Homo sapiens: one gene and its partners. The protein of the gene in region 1 purifies or fractionates together with the protein of each later gene. This does not show direct contact. Each region holds a gene or a part of one and is shown on either strand. Other genes may lie near its edges. The genes, in order: PSMA4, GARS1 and PSME4.

Region 1 (3,749 bases):
TCTTCTATGGTATAATCAACCTGGTGATGATAATTGCTTCAAAGTACAAAAAGGATGAACTTTGCAACTACCAAAAAAAGTTTGTAATTTTTTTTTCTAAAAGTCTAACACATTTATTTTTAAACTTGAGGCAGATTAAACAATTTCTATTTTACCTTCTGGAGAAAATATAGTGGTCCTGGAGTCATATCTTCGAGACTGCAAAGGAAAAACACATGAGTGATTCCTACCCACTGAAAGTAGGCCAACTCCTGCAAGCCTACAAATGATCTTACAAAACCTATCCTGGTATACAAAGTTCAATAGGTGAGAGGAAACTGACAAGAAAAAAGGCACCTTCTCACTGCTTTCCTTCTATTTCAATTTTCCCACTCAAGTCTGTAAACTGAGTACAAGCAATACTGTTTATCAGGCAACCGTTTATTGGCATGTGTATTAACTCACCATGTTTTCTGAACTTTATATAGTTCCTGTAAAAAGAAAATCAGATCATCATTAAAATAAGATTCACAAATTAAAAAGCATTTGCTGACTTTACAAATCTGTTTTATTTACTCCCTTTATTCAGCTAAGTGTCAGGCATTATGCTAGATGCTGGAATACCAAAATGTGTAAAACCAGTTCCTGTCCTGAAAAGCTAATACTGGCAGTTAGGTGAGAGAGGCAGTCATAGATTATAATGTGGAAAGAGGAACCGGGGGTAGGGTGGGAAAAGGGATGATGAAAGAATCAAGAAAGTATTTTTTGAGAAATCGATACAGAAAATGAAAGTAAATCAGAGATGGGAGAGGCAGAAATAAGGCTGAGAACCCTTGGGTCTAAGAGAAAGAACAGGGGAAGAAAGAAGGGCATTCCACACAGAGCAGAAAGTATGAACAAAGGGTACGGAGGCAGGATAGTTTAGTGGGCATGAGATAAACTGCTGATGCTTTTAAAATATATATAAATAAGAGCTAAGCGAGTATCCAAATCACGCAGAGCCTTGAAAGCCAAGGCAAGAGGCTGAGGCCTTCTCCAGAGAGTGATCTGGGTCCTGAACTTGGGGGTGGAGGCAGTTATCTTGGGCACCATCAGTACCATTCGTGCAAAAGGCAATACTAGGTGTTCAGCGTTATTTGGTAAAGCCTCAGTCCAAGGCCCACATTTCCAAATACTGGAATATAGGGAATCAAGACTGGAAAGGTAAGCTGGAATCAAATCCTGGAGAGCCCGCGTGCCCAGGTAAAAACAGAATTTTATCTCTCAGCCAATGGGGCTCCTCTGAATGATTCCCAAGGCCCACAGGAACTGATTGGCATTTTAAATGATCACTCTGGCTGGTGAGAGACCGAGGGCAGCGAACTGGTTGAGGTAATTGCAATAGGAATGGTGCAAAGTAAGGATGGCACAGAGCAGAGAAGCAGGGAGGACACAGAGACACTCGCCGGGGATTTCTGATTCGAGCTTTAAGCACAACTTTCTGTTGTCTCCACGCCTGACGCCGGGCACAGCACTATTTTGAGTTCACCGGCACCTCCGGGAGAGCTAACTTTCACGTACCGAACTCCTGAGGACGGAAGCCACCCCAACTCTCGGTCCTGCCCACAGACCCCCACCCTCAGCCCGCCCCCTCGCGGGCCCCGGCGTCCAGGCTTGGCACTGGGAAGCCCCCGACGGCGGCCGGCGGGGGCCATTCCCGGCGGTCGGTCCGTCACAGAGGAGGCGGTGCAGAGTCATCGTGCCCACGGCTCCTCGGCGGCAACTGCAGGCCGGGACCGACTGTCTTGACGTTCACGACCCCCGCCCAATGGGAAAGCGGCCAAGCTTCCGCGGGCCCCAAGGGGCCAAAGGCTCACCAGATGGAAGACCCTGAAGACCTGAGATGTCCACGGAGCCCTTAACTCCACGGAAGAATAAACCACCACCGCTCACCGAATAACCGCTGCTAATATGGCCCCCGCGCATGCGCAGAACCGCTGGGTTGGGGCGGGGGGAGCGGGACGGCCGAGGACGCGGAAGTCCTTCTTGCGGGGCGGAGCTAGAACCCGTGCCCCTCGTGGGAGCTGGGTCGCGGGGGTGCTGAGGCTCTGGGGCGCTGCAGCTTAGGCTAGGGTCCTCAGCAGGTGGAGGAGTTGCTGTGCCATGGGGAAGAGGGCAGGAAGACAGTAGCCAACCAGGAGGTGGAATAGCTAATTTCTTTCTCTTACCCTTGGCGCTCTCCTTTCATTTTCTCTTCACTATTCAGACCTAGGATAGCAAATAGTGTGGACCGGCTTCTTAATTGCTATCATTCCTGTCCTGTTTCCCAAAATGGTTCCAACCACATGAGACTTTACCCCTCTCATCACCTTCCTTTTTCATTCTGGCTTTCACTTTTACTGCTGATGCATACATTTTGGACATACACATTATGATGAGGAAGGCCGGGTGGCTCATGCCTGTAATCCCAGCACCTTGGGAGGTCGAGGCGGGTGGATCACCTGAGGTCGGGAGTTCGAGACCAGCTTGGCCAACATGGTGAAACCGTCTCTACTAAAATTAACAAAAATTAGCCGGGTGTGTGGTGCACGCCTGTAATCCCAGCTACTTGGGAGGCTGAGGCACGAGAATCGCTTGAACTCGGGAGGCGGAGGTTGCAGTGAGCCGAGAGTGCGCCACTTCACTCCAGCCTGAGACTCCATCTCAAAAAAAAAAAAATTATGATGAGGGTCGAGCATGGTGACTCATGCTTGTAATTACACCGCTTTGGGAGGCTGAGGCAGGAGGATGGCTTGAGGCTAGGAGTTTGGAGGCTGCAGTGAGCTATGATCGCACCACTGCACTCCAGCCTGGGTGACAGAGAAAGACACTGGCTCTAAAAATTAAATTAAAAAAAATTATGATCAGGTTCACACTTTTGGGGGAATTTTCACCTTGGTCTCTTTCTCTGCTTTTCACCAGTCAGAAAGGATTTCCCTGACCAGCACAGTTAAAGCAATACCCTACCGTCAGCATATACTCGCACCATTTTATCTTCTTTACTGAAATTGTCATACTTGTTTCTGTGTTCATTATCCATCTCTCCACCTTTTTGCTCATTCAGCCTCGGTCCGTATGTAAACTATCTACTATGCATTTTAGGTTTTTTCAGGCTAGAAGGTTGACTAGATCTGGGTTAATATGAAGTCATCTGCTCACAGTCTCTCCCAAAAAGCAGCCCACTGGGCAGAAACTCCTCTTCATGTTGGTTGCAAAATTATTGGGGGATCTGGGCTTTGAAAAGGAGATAGCTTGGAAGTAAGTTACATTTTGAGGTCTCGCCTATCGTCTCTACTTTCCAAGCACACAGGGAAGTGAGCCAAGGCAAGATGGCAAAGAGCCACACGCAGGTGGTGCTCTGAAAGCATCCTCAGGTGGTGTAACTTATGGCATCTCTGAGGGCCCCTGCCTGCCACCTTAGTTCATTCTGCGGAATTCAGTGAACAGTCACTTTTAAGTGAGAGGTAGAATTTCTCAGGTCAAGAGAGGGATTCCTTGAGAAAAAGGGCAAGAGAAGAATGAGTCTGACAAGTGTGGGTGACTGAGTAGTTCGGTCTGATCTGAATGGAGGAGATAATACAGGAAGTAAGGAAAGGCATTTGAGGCCTAAGTGTAGAGTGCCTTTAATGCCAGAATTTGTTTTGGTCAGTAATGGGAAGACAGGATTAAAGTGATGTTTTAGGATGATGAACCCTCAACATCTCTCATCCCACATGTTCCTCTTACAATGTGCCACAGATGGTTCCCACTGA
Region 2 (3,749 bases), on another chromosome or scaffold:
TCATTTTCCAGATTAACAAATTTCTATGAAACATGTGCTACTAACAAGACCAGTCATTAAGTAAAAATCCCACTCCGGAAAGGTTTTCAATTGCACTTCACAATGGAGTTATCCAAAATGGATAGGGGTGACAGTGTGTCTCATTTCCCCATATACAAAAAATGGGTAAAATTAGATCATCTTTAAATTATTTTTCAGCTGACATAGGACTCAGTAATTCACACAATTAACTAACTGATATATGTGTGTTCTTGGAAAATTAGAAAAAAATATCCAAACTAACTTAAATCAACTAACTCGTATATTCGGAAAATATCTTAAAGTACAAAACAATAATCAAGACAACATAAACAATACACAAGACAGTAGTTAGTAGCATCGGAAAGCTGCCGCGATCAAAGTTTACTTTAGTTAACTAGATCCTGTCTTAACTACCGATGGATGATTTTCACTGCAGTTCCAGGCTAACGTGGCAGAGGGAGGGGTTTGGGTGTGGTGGTTTTTTTTTTTCTCCAAATTAGTTGTATGCTTCCTTCTAAAGGGAAGGATATTTTTTAAAATGGCAAGTTAAGAAAAGACAAAGGAACCACACCTAATTTTATTTGTGGAGTGGAAGGTGGGTGGAGGGAGACAGAATATGCAATCGGTGTTCTGACACCAATCATGAAGAAAAAAGTTAAGCCCGTGGTGATATTTCAAAATGAAAGGCTATTTATTAAAATCGGTCAGGCTCAAACCAGCGAAGAGGACAGATGGCAAAGTGGCTGAATTTGCGGCAGCTATGCCCCAATGAATTATTTCCGAGATAGGGTTCCACCCTCTGTAGCTAAGGCAAATTATTGCATCAGGCGCCCATGCAGGAGAAACCCGTTTGGTGTTTACTACTAAGTCATGATCTCCGGGGTCCTACTGCAAGCTCTGGCTCTCCCTAATTGCATATGGGAATCATCTGAAATAATCTTTTCCTTGATATCTCTAAATTCTAAACTCTATGGCAGTGCCCTAGGAAAAGGAGGTCTATATTAAATCACCAAGTCCTTCAGCCCATGAAACCTTCCCTCACCTTCGGGAAAATCAAATGTCAAAATATTCCATACTAAGGATGGCTGACTTCACTCCGCAACACTTAGTTTCCCAGGTTTACGATCTGAGGGCTCACTGGTTCCAAACGGCCTTTTCAGAAGCCAGAAAAGATGACAAGAGCAAAGGATGATGAGTTCACAGCATTAATAGAAAAGTTCGACACCTCCCCACATCCACATTTCAATTCTATTTTCTCAGCCAATCATTCCGCTAAACTAAGCACTGAATGAAGGAAGATGTTAAGGGGGAAACACTATCAAAGCATCCTAAAGATTAAAGGGCCTGGCCGTAAGACGAAAGAACCGGCAGTTTTTCGGCTCATCATTGACCACTGAAAGAATTAGGAGGCTTTCCACCCAGGGTGCACAAAGAGTACAGCAGAGCCTGGAAAACTGAAGTTAAGGTTATTCAGTTAGGAGGCGAGGACAACCAAAGGGTCACAGATCCCAGCCCCACTGGAAATAGAGGAGACGCGGGCTGTGACAGAATGGGGAAGGGAGAACGGAGCCGGAGAGGGACGCAGGAAGTCGGAGGGGTTCCAGGGAGTCATCCAAAAAGAGAGGAGGACGGAGGTCCGCGGGAGAGGAGGTGGCTGACGCACGGGGGACTTGGGACCAAAGTGGGGGAGGCGAAGAAGACGCCAGAGGATGAAGGGAAAGAAAGGGGTAACCGAAGAGGAGGACAGTTCCCCGGGGAGGAGGGAAGGATGACCAGAAGAAGGCCCTGGGAGGAGAGCCGGAGGCTTAGCGGAGAGCGCAAAACACCGGTACCTGCTGGCGCACTGCTAGCCTCAGAGGTGCCAGCACCTCCTCAGCCCCCGCGCCGTCCATGCTGCTCCGGGAGGCGGCGGCGGGCAAGGAGATCGGGGGGCAGGAGGCCGCGCTGAGGGACCGGCGGAGCAGGAGCGAGGGTCGGGCTAAGAGCCGGGGCGGCAGCAGCAGCAGCAGAGCGGCGCGAGCACCTCTAAGCAGCACTGGACGCGGAGAGGGCATGAGCCTGCGGCCCTGGGCTGTCCAGAGAGGGTGGCGACGGAAGCGGCGCGCGCCGCCCGGCTCGGAGCATGATGAAATCGCCGCGTAAACGACGCGGCGCGCGTGCTGCCGCACATTCACCACCGCGTGACGCGGCGCCGGGTCGCCGCCGCAGATTCGACACAAAACCCGGAAGGACCCCGCCGAAGGTTTTCTCCGGTTCGGGAGAGAGGTAGGTAGGGTTGCGAGCGAACAGATTTGCACAGAAGTGCGTCAAGCCACCCCAGCAGGGTGGATGTTCAGGGACACAGCTCTGAGCGAGACCTGCAGGCCGAGACACACGAGAACCTTCAAAGCATAGGTTTTTATACGAGTGACACCCCGGCCGACCTACTTGAACGGACACTTCTGTTTCTGTTCTTTCGCGCCCTGCGCCTTAAAAGGGTCGCAAAACATCAAATCAGATAGGGATCTTAGACTTCTGTTGCTCAAGTGCAGATGTTCCCCAGATAAGGAAATAGGCCCAGAGAGGTTAATGATTTGCCCAGAGTCACACATTCTTGGTCCGCCGATGTCAAGACAAAAGCTGGCGAACGGGGGAGGAGGAGTGAGGGGATAGAGTCACCCCAGGCTTTCTGGAGAAGGTAAATTCCAATCTGCCCTTGCGGGGCGAGCAGGATTTGAACCGGCAGAGATGAGGAAAGGCAAGAGGTGCCTGATAAGTCTTTCTGCTTGGCATAGCCTCAGTCTATCTGCCTCCTGTGGTTAGGCCCCAGCTGACCAACCACCCAGAGATGGCTTCCCCCCGCCCCACACACCCAGTTCCTCCTGCCCAAAGGGTGGAGGGCCTAGAAAAGCTGGGTTCCCCCTCCAGGAAAGGAAGAGAAAAATGATGTGTTGGTTATAAAAACAGCATTGCGCACACCTGCAAAAATGGCTAAAATGAAAATGATGGAAAATGCCAAGTGACCCTCTGAGACTCCCCTACACTGCTCAGGGGAGTGTTAACTGGTGCAGCCAGCCACTTGGGAGCTCTTCGGCAGTATGCACGTACGTCTCCCTGTGACCCACAATCCCACCCCAGGAGTGTGCAGGAGTAGACGGGCTCAGTATAATGAAGTCTCCTTTCCTAATGGTGTGAAAGTCCATGTTATTTCTCTTCCCGTTCCAGTGTGCAGTTCTGGAGAAGTACTTACAATTCAACATGAGCAGGGTGGGTTGCTTAAGAACCTTCTGCAATATTGAACAATTATATTTTTAAACACTTTTATTTCAAGATTTGATATTAATTATAATTTATTTGGCTTTTATTTTACTAGGCAATTTTGAATTTATTTTAATATCTTTAAATGTGAAAAATCATTTTAAGTTTTACTTTTATTTTTATTTAGATTTTTATTAAAATGTTGAAATTCTATATCCTTTGAATAAAACTATTTTATTTCTAAAAAATTCCTTAGATCAATAATGTCTCATCCATTTTCATGTTAGGACAGTCCTGAAAGGACTCCAAATCCGTTCTTCCCTCCTCCCCGACCAATTCATCCTCCCCACTGCTGCTTCAGTCATTCTTTCTTTCTTTTTTCTTTTTCTTTTTTTTTCCAGACGGAGTCTCGCTCTTTCACCCAGGCTGGAGTGCAGTGGCGTGATCTTGGCTCACTGCAACCTCCGCCTCCCGGGTTCAGGCGATTCTCC
Region 3 (3,749 bases), on another chromosome or scaffold:
GTGTAGAGACAGAGGGTATACAGGAACTCTATACTTTCCATTCAATTTTGCTGTGAACCTAAAATTGCTCTCAGAAATAAAATTTTTGAAAAAATCAAATATGAAATATGTCTTATTGTGCTATTACATTATACAACTTTATCAAAGAAATTCATGTTCTCCAAAATCAGTTCCTTTTTTTTCCCCTTATGGAAAATCAACTTTCTCACTACAAAGAAATTTTGGTTCCCATTTTGAATGATCACTTAACAACAAAGTAAAACCTCTTCTATCACTCTCTCTAACTGGTTCTCACTGATGAGTTTGGTAACTTGTCAAGATTTCAAGATTCATTTACAAATAAAACCACTTGCATTTATTGTGTACTTCAATTTCAATACTCAAACATTAGATACTCTTAGGTGCCTCATACCAGACAATGCAGATTCAGCAGTTAGCATTTCCTTTCTTTCCCAACACGGGGATGATATGAATGTGGGTGCTCCTGTGGCCACTTATTACTTTCCACAAGAGAAGGTTTGTGTATTTGATAACTCATACCTTGACTACACCTAAGTTTCTGGTGGTTACATAATCTAATCAAATACATTATGTGGTTTCAACTGGGATAATCAATCCACGAAGGCTGCATAATATTTGTAATAATAAAACAACTGTACTTTCAATTCTAAAGGGTGCCACAGTTTTAATTAGCAATTAAAATGACTTCACATTATAATATAGTCACTTAATCATAAAACAATACAAAACATGTCACTGTAGCAAACAGGGAATCTAAATTTGCTTCATCTTACACCAAACCCACATACTTCACTAAAATCAAAATTCTGTTTAAACACACACACACACAGACACACACACACACACACGAATCATGGATGGGATAAGTTGTAGGAAACAGTAATCCATTCGCTTATTCTCCATCCTTTTCCCGCCCTTTCCTCCAGACCAGTTTACCAGTTTAAAAGGAACAAAGAACTAGAAAGGCCAAGTGATTTTTTTTTTTTTTTTTGTAAGACAAGAGTCTCCCTCTGTCGCCTAGCCTGGAGTGCAGTGGCGCCATCTCGGCTCACTGTAGCCTCTGCCTCCCAGGTTCAAGCGATTCTTCTGCCTCAGTCTATAGGCGAGTGCCACCATACCAGCCTAAATTTTGTATTTTTAGTAGAGACAGGGTTTCACCATGTTGGCCAAGGAACTCCTGACCTCAAGTAATCTCAGCCTCCCAAAGTGCAGGGATTACAGGCGTGAGCCGCCACACCCAGCGCATCCAAGTGATTTTTCCAGCAGTATGTTGTGGAGCCCTGAGGAGGTTTCAAGAGTTCTACTATCAAGGAAGTATTTTTTTTTTTAATGAGTGGGGTTTTAATTTGCCTGAGGAATCCAATTTCAAGTTTAAAATTTTGGTTGTGTGTTTTTTTGTTTTTTTTTTTTTGAGTCAGAGTCTCGCTCTGTCGCCCAGGCTGGAGTGCAATGGTGCAATCGCAGCTCACTGCAGCCAGCCTCTGCCTTCCGGGTTCAAGCAATTCTTCTGCCTCAGCCCCCCGAGTAGCTGGGACTACAGGCACCCGCCATCATGCCCGGCTAACTTTTTTTTGTATTTTCAGCAGAGACGGGGTTTCACCATGTTGGTGAGGCTGGTCTCGAACTCCTGACCTTGTGATCCACCTGCTTCAGCCTCCCAAAGTACTGGGATTACAGGCGTGAGCCGCCACGCCCAGCCAAAATTTGGTTTTTTAACACTCCACTACTGGCACTACATGGTGACTCACGCCTGTAATCCCAGCACCTTGGGAGGCCGAGATCTTGGGCGGATCATTTGGGGCCAGGAGTTTGAGACAGCCTGGGCAACATGGCAAAACCCCCTCTCTAATAAAAATACAAATATTGGTCAAGTGTGGTGGTACTCACCTGTAATCCCAGCTACTTGGAGGCAGAGACATGAGGGTTGCTTGAACCTGGGAGGCAGAGGCTGCAGTGAGCCGACATTGTGCCACTGCACTCCAGCCTGGATGACAGAGCGAGACTCTGTCTCAAAAAATATAAAAATAAAAAATAAAACACTCCACTACTTAATTTAAAGTTTGAAAAACCACTAATAATCTAAAATCTTGCCAGGATAATAATGTTAGGCAGGCCACGGTGGCTCACGCCCATAATCCGAACACTTTGGGAGGCCGGGGTGGCCAGATCATTTGAGATCAAGAGTTTGAGACTGGCCTGGCCAACATGGGGAAACCCTGTCTCTACTAAAAATACAAAAAAATTAGCCAGGCGTCGTGGCACATGCCTATAATCCCAGCTACTCTGTCTCCAAAAAAAAAAAAAGATAATAATGTTGGAGGCAAGGCCAGATACACCTCACGTACAGATAACCTGAGGTGTTCTAACGAGCACCCGCAGCCCCTCATGAAAGGTCCAGAAAGGCAAGAGGGCAAAATCAAGTTTTTTGGGGTTTTTTTCTTTGTTGTTGTTTTTAAGATGGAGTCTCGCTCTTTTGCCGAGGCTGGAGTGGCGCTTGGCTCACTGCAACCTCCACCTCCCAGATTCAAGCGATTCTCCTGCCTCAGCCTCCTGAGTAGCTGGGATTAAAGGCGTGCACCACCATGCCAGGCTAATTTTCTTAATTTTAGTAGAGATGGGGTTTCACCATGTTGGTCAGGCTGGTCTCGAACTCCTGACCTCGTGATCCGTCTGCCTCGGCCTCCCAAAGTGCTGGGATTACAGGCATAACAAAATCAAGTTTTAAGAATACCTTTCTTCAACTCCCTTCATTCTCTACATGGGCCATACAAGTTATCTACCAATATTTCACTCACAGTGTCCATGAGCTGTCTGCCATTGTCCAAAGACCATTAATTTGTTCCTACTTTCTCTAATTTGTTTCAACTTCTCTGATTTGTTTCTTCCCTTATTAAAAATTTCCCTTGTGATGTGTTACATCACACAACCTCTCTTGACCAGACAGTTCTAGTACTTTAAATTGTCTGTACAGGAAAGCCTCTATCACATGGCCAAGTATTTAAAAATATAGAAATAACCTTTCTTCAGAGATGTTAAACAGACCTGCAAGTTTCTAAATGGACTGAACTACTAAAAATGAAGAAAAAAGTCAAAAAGAAGGCTGGGGCGGTGGCTCAGCCTGTAATCCCGCACTTTGGGAGGCCGAGGCACACAGATCACCTGGGTTCGAGACCAGCCTTGCCAAAATGGTGAAACCCCGTCTCTACTAAAAATACAAAAATTAGCCAGGCGTGGCAGCGCACAACTGTAATCCCAGCTACTCAGGAGGCTGAGGCAGGAGAATCGTTTGAACCAGGGAGGTGGAGGTGGAGGTTGCAGTGAGCCACGATAGTGCCACTACACTATCTTGTGTCTGGGCAACAGAGTGAGATTGTCTCAAAAAAAAAAAAAAAAAAAAAAAAAAAAAAGTCAAAAAGAGGGACCAAATGTAAAGCCTGAGAACCTTCCAAACCAGAACTTGGTCCCAAACACACCTCTGATGTCCAGATTACGGGTGCACATTTCTGATCAGCAAGATAGTCCCACTAACTCTCAACTGCATTTACACTTTGGTCTTTAGGAATGTACTTGATCTATGCAACTGTTTCCAGTATTTTACAAATTATTCAAACAGTTCTTGTAGAAAGATACACACAATGACTGATGTGAAGCTTGACAGGATTAAAAAAATAAAACTGCAGAATACCAGAGTAGAAATGCTTCTCAAGAATTTAGTCCAGGCCGGGTGC

Evidence for each region.
Region 2: the proteins of PSMA4 (region 1) and GARS1 purify together in Homo sapiens (affinity purification with mass spectrometry; 2 studies listed by BioGRID, with this or other methods). This does not show direct contact.
Region 3: the proteins of PSMA4 (region 1) and PSME4 purify together in Homo sapiens (affinity purification with mass spectrometry; 4 studies listed by BioGRID and IntAct, with this or other methods). This does not show direct contact.

The regions. Positions count from the first base shown.
Region 1 is NC_000015.10:78,538,626-78,542,374, reverse strand, and holds the start of PSMA4 (proteasome subunit alpha type-4), read right to left. Parts: upstream 1,932-3,749; 5' UTR 1,836-1,931; intron 1,590-1,835; exon of another isoform or gene 1,540-1,589; intron 471-1,539; 5' UTR 448-470; coding exon 445-447; intron 199-444; coding exon 156-198; intron 1-155. UniProt on the Homo sapiens protein: Component of the 20S core proteasome complex involved in the proteolytic degradation of most intracellular proteins. This complex plays numerous essential roles within the cell by associating with different regulatory particles.
Region 2 is NC_000007.14:30,593,248-30,596,996, reverse strand, and holds the start of GARS1 (glycine--tRNA ligase isoform 1 precursor), read right to left. Parts: upstream 2,120-3,749; 5' UTR 2,076-2,119; coding exon 1,854-2,075; intron 1-1,853. UniProt on the Homo sapiens protein: Catalyzes the ATP-dependent ligation of glycine to the 3'-end of its cognate tRNA, via the formation of an aminoacyl-adenylate intermediate (Gly-AMP).
Region 3 is NC_000002.12:53,964,252-53,968,000, forward strand, and holds part of PSME4 (proteasome activator complex subunit 4), read right to left. Parts: intron 1-3,749. UniProt on the Homo sapiens protein: Associated component of the proteasome that specifically recognizes acetylated histones and promotes ATP- and ubiquitin-independent degradation of core histones during spermatogenesis and DNA damage response.